2 linked regions of the Homo sapiens genome follow. The protein of the gene in region 1 interacts with the protein of each later gene in a biochemical or structural test. Each region holds a gene or a part of one and is shown on either strand. Other genes may lie near its edges.

What was found. The genes of interacting proteins can lie anywhere in the genome.
Region 2: of the proteins of PRKCA (region 1) and EIF4EBP1, one has a biochemical effect on the other in vitro, tested with the Homo sapiens proteins (one large-scale study listed by BioGRID).

What each region holds. Positions count from the first base shown.
Region 1 is NC_000017.11:66,305,613-66,309,112, reverse strand, and holds part of PRKCA (protein kinase C alpha type), read right to left. Parts: intron 3,018-3,500; coding exon 2,986-3,017; intron 1-2,985. UniProt on the Homo sapiens protein: Calcium-activated, phospholipid- and diacylglycerol (DAG)-dependent serine/threonine-protein kinase that is involved in positive and negative regulation of cell proliferation, apoptosis, differentiation, migration and adhesion, tumorigenesis, cardiac hypertrophy, angiogenesis, platelet function and inflammation, by directly phosphorylating targets such as RAF1, BCL2, CSPG4, TNNT2/CTNT, or activating signaling cascade involving MAPK1/3 (ERK1/2) and RAP1GAP.
Region 2 is NC_000008.11:38,057,700-38,060,865, reverse strand, and holds the end of EIF4EBP1 (eukaryotic translation initiation factor 4E-binding protein 1), read right to left. Parts: intron 963-3,166; coding exon 931-962; 3' UTR 501-930; downstream 1-500. UniProt on the Homo sapiens protein: Repressor of translation initiation that regulates EIF4E activity by preventing its assembly into the eIF4F complex: hypophosphorylated form competes with EIF4G1/EIF4G3 and strongly binds to EIF4E, leading to repress translation.

The DNA.
Region 1 (3,500 bases):
GCTGCAGATATTTTACCTACTAACCAAAGCAACATACTACATACTAGTGGACAGAAAGCACTGCCTCATCGGGTAAAAATAATCTGATGTATGAGGAATACAAAAAGCAGTTTCAAACTCCAGCTGTCATTTCCAGAGAGTGTGTTGCCAAAGGTATGAATGAGAATGAGTTATTCTCCTGCAGAAGAATGATGTTCTATCAAACAAAACCGAGGAAAAAAAAAACAAAATTAGAGAGCATTAAAAGAAAACTTCACTCTACGATAGTCAGATGTTAATAGAAAGATTAATTTTGCGGTAGGAGCCAAAACAGAAAATGCTGGGTAACTATATTTGTGGGATTAAAAGCATCACCCTGAGGTAACATATCCTTCTTAAGTTACAACAAACAATAAAATACAATGGACTAGCATATGCCTACTAGAAGTCAAATACAGATGAGACACAGTAAACAAAATATAACAAGCAGACAGCATGTTACAAATAAATGTATACTATTGGAAAAGGTCTCTGTGAACTGTAATTTGTAAACGCACTAGGGTAATTCATTATTTAAAGAGATCTGAGGTTAAATTCTTCACCAAAGCAAAGAACTATATAGAAAGCACATAGTCACTTCTCTAATTTGTCTGGTTTGTAAATCCAGAGTTTCAAATATTAGGTAGAGTAAGGCAATTCACACAACACAAATGGCTAAAACACATTTGAAAAAAAAAGTTCAAGCTCACCCATAATGCAGGAGATGGAAATCTAAAAGAGGGGCCCCTTTTCACCTACCAGATTGGTAAAAAATGTAAAAGATGTATATTACCCGATATCTTCACTGGTAAAAATGAAGAGGAAGTCCCATTAATACAAAAAAATGTGCACTGGAACTCTTGAAGAGCAATTTAGCAGCACCCGTTAAAATGTAAGATGCACACATACACACTTCTGGCTATCTATTGTAGAAATACCTATACTAGTGTCCAATAATGCTCTTGACAAAGGTATTTGTACTAGTAAGAACGAATTACAAAATACCCCTTGATAGAGGAATGGGTGAATAAATTGGATACATCCACACATGCAGCCACTAAGCAGAGTAAGGCAGAACTGATGCTTTGATGTGGAAGAATATCCACCATCTACTGCTGAGTGAAAAGAGCAAGTTGCAAAGTCGTATAAAATTTTGATCTCCTTTTAAAAACTAAGTATGTGTGAGTGAGTGAACGAATGGTTGTCTCAAACAGAAGTTATCTCTGGAGGAGGGAAAAGAGAAGCATATGCAATTTCACTTTTTATTTTATACAGTTTAAAATTTTTATGGGTTTCACTTTTTTAATTTAGGTAAAAGGGAGTTATGTTGCCATGAAACTATTAATCTGCTAATCCACTAAAAGTTCAAGAGATGCTCTGGGGGAAATCATGCAAAACCCCCTAGAGCCTAGTAATACGGCCACTGTGATTTCCACAAAATCTGCTCAGATGAGCGGGTCTAAGAGGAACCAACCTTATTCTAATCAACCTTATTTTTTATTTATGCAGAAAATGATAAAAGTTTTAGAACAAGACAACCACTTTCTCCCAGACAAGCAGTATGGAGAAGATTCAGTACAAAAATTTTCTTATAGATTTATGTAAGTCCCCACCCAAACGAAAAATATCACCAAAAATAACAGATGTCAATCACATTGGCCCAGAACCTTACATCTTTAAACTCCCTAAAGTCATGTTCAAGCCTAGGCTCAAATCTCACCCATAAAGTTCAGGCCCACAACTTTGAGAACTAGAAAGAGCTACATTTTCCTTTCATCTTTTGTAGAGACTGGTATAACACATCTTTCTCTTTCTTCTCTTTTTAAAAGGAATATCCCTTGATTTTCAAATGCAACTCTGAAAATGATACACTCAGTAGGGGTTTTAAGCACATCTTGGAGAAAGGAAGGTAGAATATTAAATGAATAATCATACCATAAAATACTCCCATCTAAAATATGTTTAGAAAATGTATACAAGAAACAAGTTCACAAATTTGAACTAGTTTTTAAAAGGCAACCAATTTACTAGCACAATCTCAAAGTTGTAAAAAAGTACACAGTGCCTTTCTCTCTAATGCACTTAATATTAAACAGTGTTAGGATAATATTTTCCAGGCTAGAATGTACTTTCTGCTTGCCCTAATAATAAATCTATGCCCAGATGGGAAATGGAACCAGAACTAAATAAACACAATATAGACAATGAGCAGGAGAGCCAGAAAAGTTAGCTAATGAGCCTGTGATGCCTTCACAAGCTCTAAAGTGGGTTTCTTCAAAAAGGAAAAGTCAAACAATTAGAATGGAGAGTACAAAAAGTTAGATATTCGATGTGTGTGAAATGCAATTACAGATCAGAGGGTGAAGCAAATGGATTTCTTTCTGTATGTGATGGCTGATATCACGTTTTGTCAGATATGTAAGCTGAAAGGAAAGCATGCTACATAGTCATACCATAGAAATCAGTCATCAAATCATCAACAAAACTTTAAAACATGCAAACTTTGTTCTCGATGACAACTGGTATTCTAAACAAAACAAACCCTTACTAGAATGAAATACGGCCTAAAATTAGTTGCAGTGAGTCCAACTCAATACATAAGTAAAAGCGATGAAGAATAAAAACAAAGAGGAAGAACAAGGAAGAAAAGCCACTTGAATACAAAGTGATTCCATTTTTTTCTCAACACCCACACAAAGACAGCAGTTTCTGACAAGAATGTTCTCGGCAAAAAATAAAATTACAGAAAGGCTTTTTTTTTTTTTTTCCAATGAGAAAAAGGCAGCTCTATATGCAGATTAGTAGGCCCCAATTATTTTTTAAGGCCCAAATTTACAGCCCTCATATTTCAAAATTATCTAAATAACATTTTTTTATTGGAAAGAAAATATGACTGGAAATAATGTTCTTGTTTGGAATGCTTATTTCATGTTGTGCTTGAAAATAAAACCAAAAGTGGTAGCTTACCTTGGCACTGGAAGCCTTGTTTCCCAAACCCCCTGAAAAACAAAAACAAGAACAAAATATCTTAACATATTTTCTGTTGGATAGCATATTTTAAACAAGTTATGTGACCAAGTACTCTACCACTAAAGGTTTGTATGTGAAACCCAATGATTTAATAGAAAAAAACATACCTAAATATCTAGTCAGATTACTGTGTAAATTCAACCTTGGGGGGAAAAAAATCTTGCCTATAAAGGATCACTGAACTATTTCGATGTATCAACCTTTTTTCCAATTTTTTATACTATGTTATCAATACTAAAATTTCAAGACAAGAACATGACTGTATATTCAAACTTGTTGGCTACAACACAATATTCAAGTAACAAAACAGTTTATGGTTAAAATTGTAAAAGGAAGTTGCTTATTTTGTTCCTGAAGACCAAATGAAAATTGTTTTTATCTCCCTAAAGATAACAAAGTGGCTTCTTTTTGTTTAAAATATCACATGTCTAGAAACTGCCAAACGGCATCAC
Region 2 (3,166 bases), on another chromosome or scaffold:
ACCTGTTCTTGTGCCAGTCTTCTCAGCTGTAAAGTGAGGATAACAGTTGTTCTACTTACCCACAGGATCAGAGTCAGAATCAAATAAGGACAGGCCCACGCTTTAGAAGCACTGTACAAGGCTGGGCACGGTGGCTTACACCTGTAATCCCAGCACTTTGGGAGGCCAAGGCGGGTGGATCACCTGAGGTCAAGAGTTCGAGACCAGCCTGGCCAACATGGTGAAACCCTGTCTCTACAAAAATACAAAAAAATACTAGCTGGGCATGGTGGCGGGCACCTGTAATCCCAGCTACTCGGGAGGCTGAGGCAGGAGAATTGCTTGAACCCAGGAGGTGGAGGTTGCAATCAGCTGAGATTGCGCCATTGCACTCCAGCCTGGGCCACAAGAGTGAAACTCCGTCTCAAAAAAAAAAAAAAAAAAAAAGCAGCAGCACTGTACAGATAGCAGCTGGTGTTAGTTACCAAACAGAGTTGAAAAAAGCTCAGACGGGGCCCAACTCTTGGCCCTAGGGCGAAGGTGGCTTTTATTTCCTCTCTTGGGGAAGGAGGGGGAGGGAGCTTTCCCAAGCACATCAACCTAAGGAAGGGGTGGTTGCGCCCCCAGCAGCGAGGGGCTGGAACTGCTGATCATTCGGAAGGAAGGGTTCGTTCTTGTCCACTTCCTGGCCCTTGGCTGCAGGGTGTGCTGGCAGGGGTCACTCCCCTTGGGGTGGCAGCTCCTGCATCAGTGGAGGCACAAGGAGGTATCTGCTGGTGTTCACGAAGAGGAGGGGGCAGGTGCCCTGAGTGAGGGAGAAAGGGCTGGGGTGTCCGACCCCACGCCAACGCCTGCCCAGTATGATCACTTTCATAAGGCCTGGCTGGTGGGACTCCTCCCAGGAAGGCCCTGAGGGGCCCCTTGGTAGTGCTCCACACGATGGCTGGTGCTTTAAATGTCCATCTCAAACTGTGACTCTTCACCTGGGGAGAGAGGGGACAGAGGGCCAGGTCAACAATGGGTGAATGCTTGGTATATGAGGCCATTCTTTCATTGCTATAAAGAAATACCTGAGGTTGGGTAATTTATAAAGAAAATAAGTTTTTTTTTGTTTTTTTGTTTTTTTTTTTTGAGATGGAGTCTCACTCTGTCTCCGAGGCTGGAGTGCAGTGGCCCAATTTCGGCTCACTGCAACCTCCGCCTCCTGGGTTCAAGCGATTCTCCTACCTAAGCCTCCCAAAAGAGTAGCTGGGATTATAGGCACCCACCACCACACCCAGCTAATTTTTGTATTTTTAGTAGACCCGGGGTTTTGCCATGTTGGCCAGGCTGGTCTCGAACTCCTGATCTCAGATGATCCACCCTCCTCAGCCTCCCAAAGTGCTGGGATTACAGGTGCGAGCCACCGTGCCCAGCCAAGAAAAGAGGTTTAACTGGCTCGCGGTTCTGCAGGCTGTACAAGCATGACGCCGGCCTCAGCTTGGCTTCTGGGGAGGCCTCAGGGGGCTTTTCGTCATGGTGGAAAGCAAAGCGGGAGCAGGCATGTCACATGGAGGAAGCAGGAGCAAGAGAGAGGGTGGAGTGGCGCTCCCACACTTTACAACAACCAGATCTCGAGAGAACTCATTCACTATCATGAGGACAGCACCAAGCTGTGAGGGATCTGTCCCCACGACCCAAACACCTCCCACCAGGCCCTACCTCCAACACTGGGGATTACAATTTAACATGAGATTTGGGCAGGGACAAATATCCAGACTATATCATTTCGTCTGACTCTTGTTGTTTTTGCTTTTTTCTTTAGAGACAGGGTCTCACTCTCTTGGCCAGGCTGGCGTGCAGTTACGCAATCATAGCTCACTGCAGCCTTGACCTCCTGGGCTCAAATGATCCTCTGGCCTCAGCCTCCCAAGTAGTTGGGATTACAGGCATGCACCACCATGCCTGGCTAATTTTAAAATTTTATGTAGAGATGGGGTCTTGCATTGTTGCCCAGGCTGGTATTGAACTTCTGGCCTCAAGTATTCATCCTGCCTCAGCCTCCCAGAGTGCTGGGATTTCAGGCATGAGCCACTGTGCCTGGCCACCAGCTGATGTTTTTAGGGGCCAGGGACAGCCCCTATTTTTTGAAAGTAGATAACTTGTTTAGTTTCACAGGCTCACAGCTGGAAGGAAATTAAGCTTGAGATGAATCATGCTGTGAGTCTTGTCTGATTCAGATGAAATTCTGGACTTTGAACTTTTGAGCTAGGACTGCAACGTGTTAAGTCTTTGGGGATATGGGGACCAAATTAATATATGTGTATATGAGAAGGACATGAGTTTGGGGGGTCCAGGGCTGGAATGCTATGGTTTGAAATTCATACAGAAACTTAATCCCCAATGTAACAGTATTAAGAGTTGGGGCCGTTAAGAGGTAATTGGGTCATGAAGGCTCTGTCCTCATGAATGGATTAGCCCATTCCTGGATTAATGGGTTACCACAGGAGTGGGCTAGTTATCACAAGAGTGTTATAAAAAGGCAGCTTGGTTCTCTCTCATGTGCCCCTCTTGCCCTGTGATGCCTTCCGCCATGTTATGATGCAGCAGGAGGCCCTCACCAGAAGCCCAGCAGATGCGGGCACCATGCCCTTGGCCTTCCCAGCCTCTAGAACTGTAAGAAATAAACCATTTTTCTTCATAAATTACCCAGTCTCAGGTATTCAGTTACAGCCATAAAAAAACAGACTAAGACACAGGCAACTATTGTCTGTCTTGTACTGTGAGGTTCCCAAGGTAATTATGAATCATGTCCTGCAGGCCCTGGGGAGATTAATTCTGCTGCTGTTAGCAGAGCCAGCCAAGCTGAGGTCCCTGCTGCTTCCTGTCTGGGCCTGGGGTACGGCCTTCCGGGTGAAGGGTCGGCGGGTTCCAATCTGATTATAGTTGCCCGGAAGTGCTTATGCTGCATCATCTTGCAGCAGAGAACTCCAACACTCTGCCAAGCCAGTCAGGATGCCACAAAGAGTGCATTCACTTACACCACTACCACAGTGGCTGCTCTAATTACTCGGGAGGTGGGGACAGCAGGAAGGACCCAGCTACCAAATGTCAAATCGGCAGAGACAACTGGCTGCATTGTTTCTACCTGCCTTCATGAAGATCCACTAGGGGACCAACAGCCCAACAGGAGGCATCCCGGATGTAT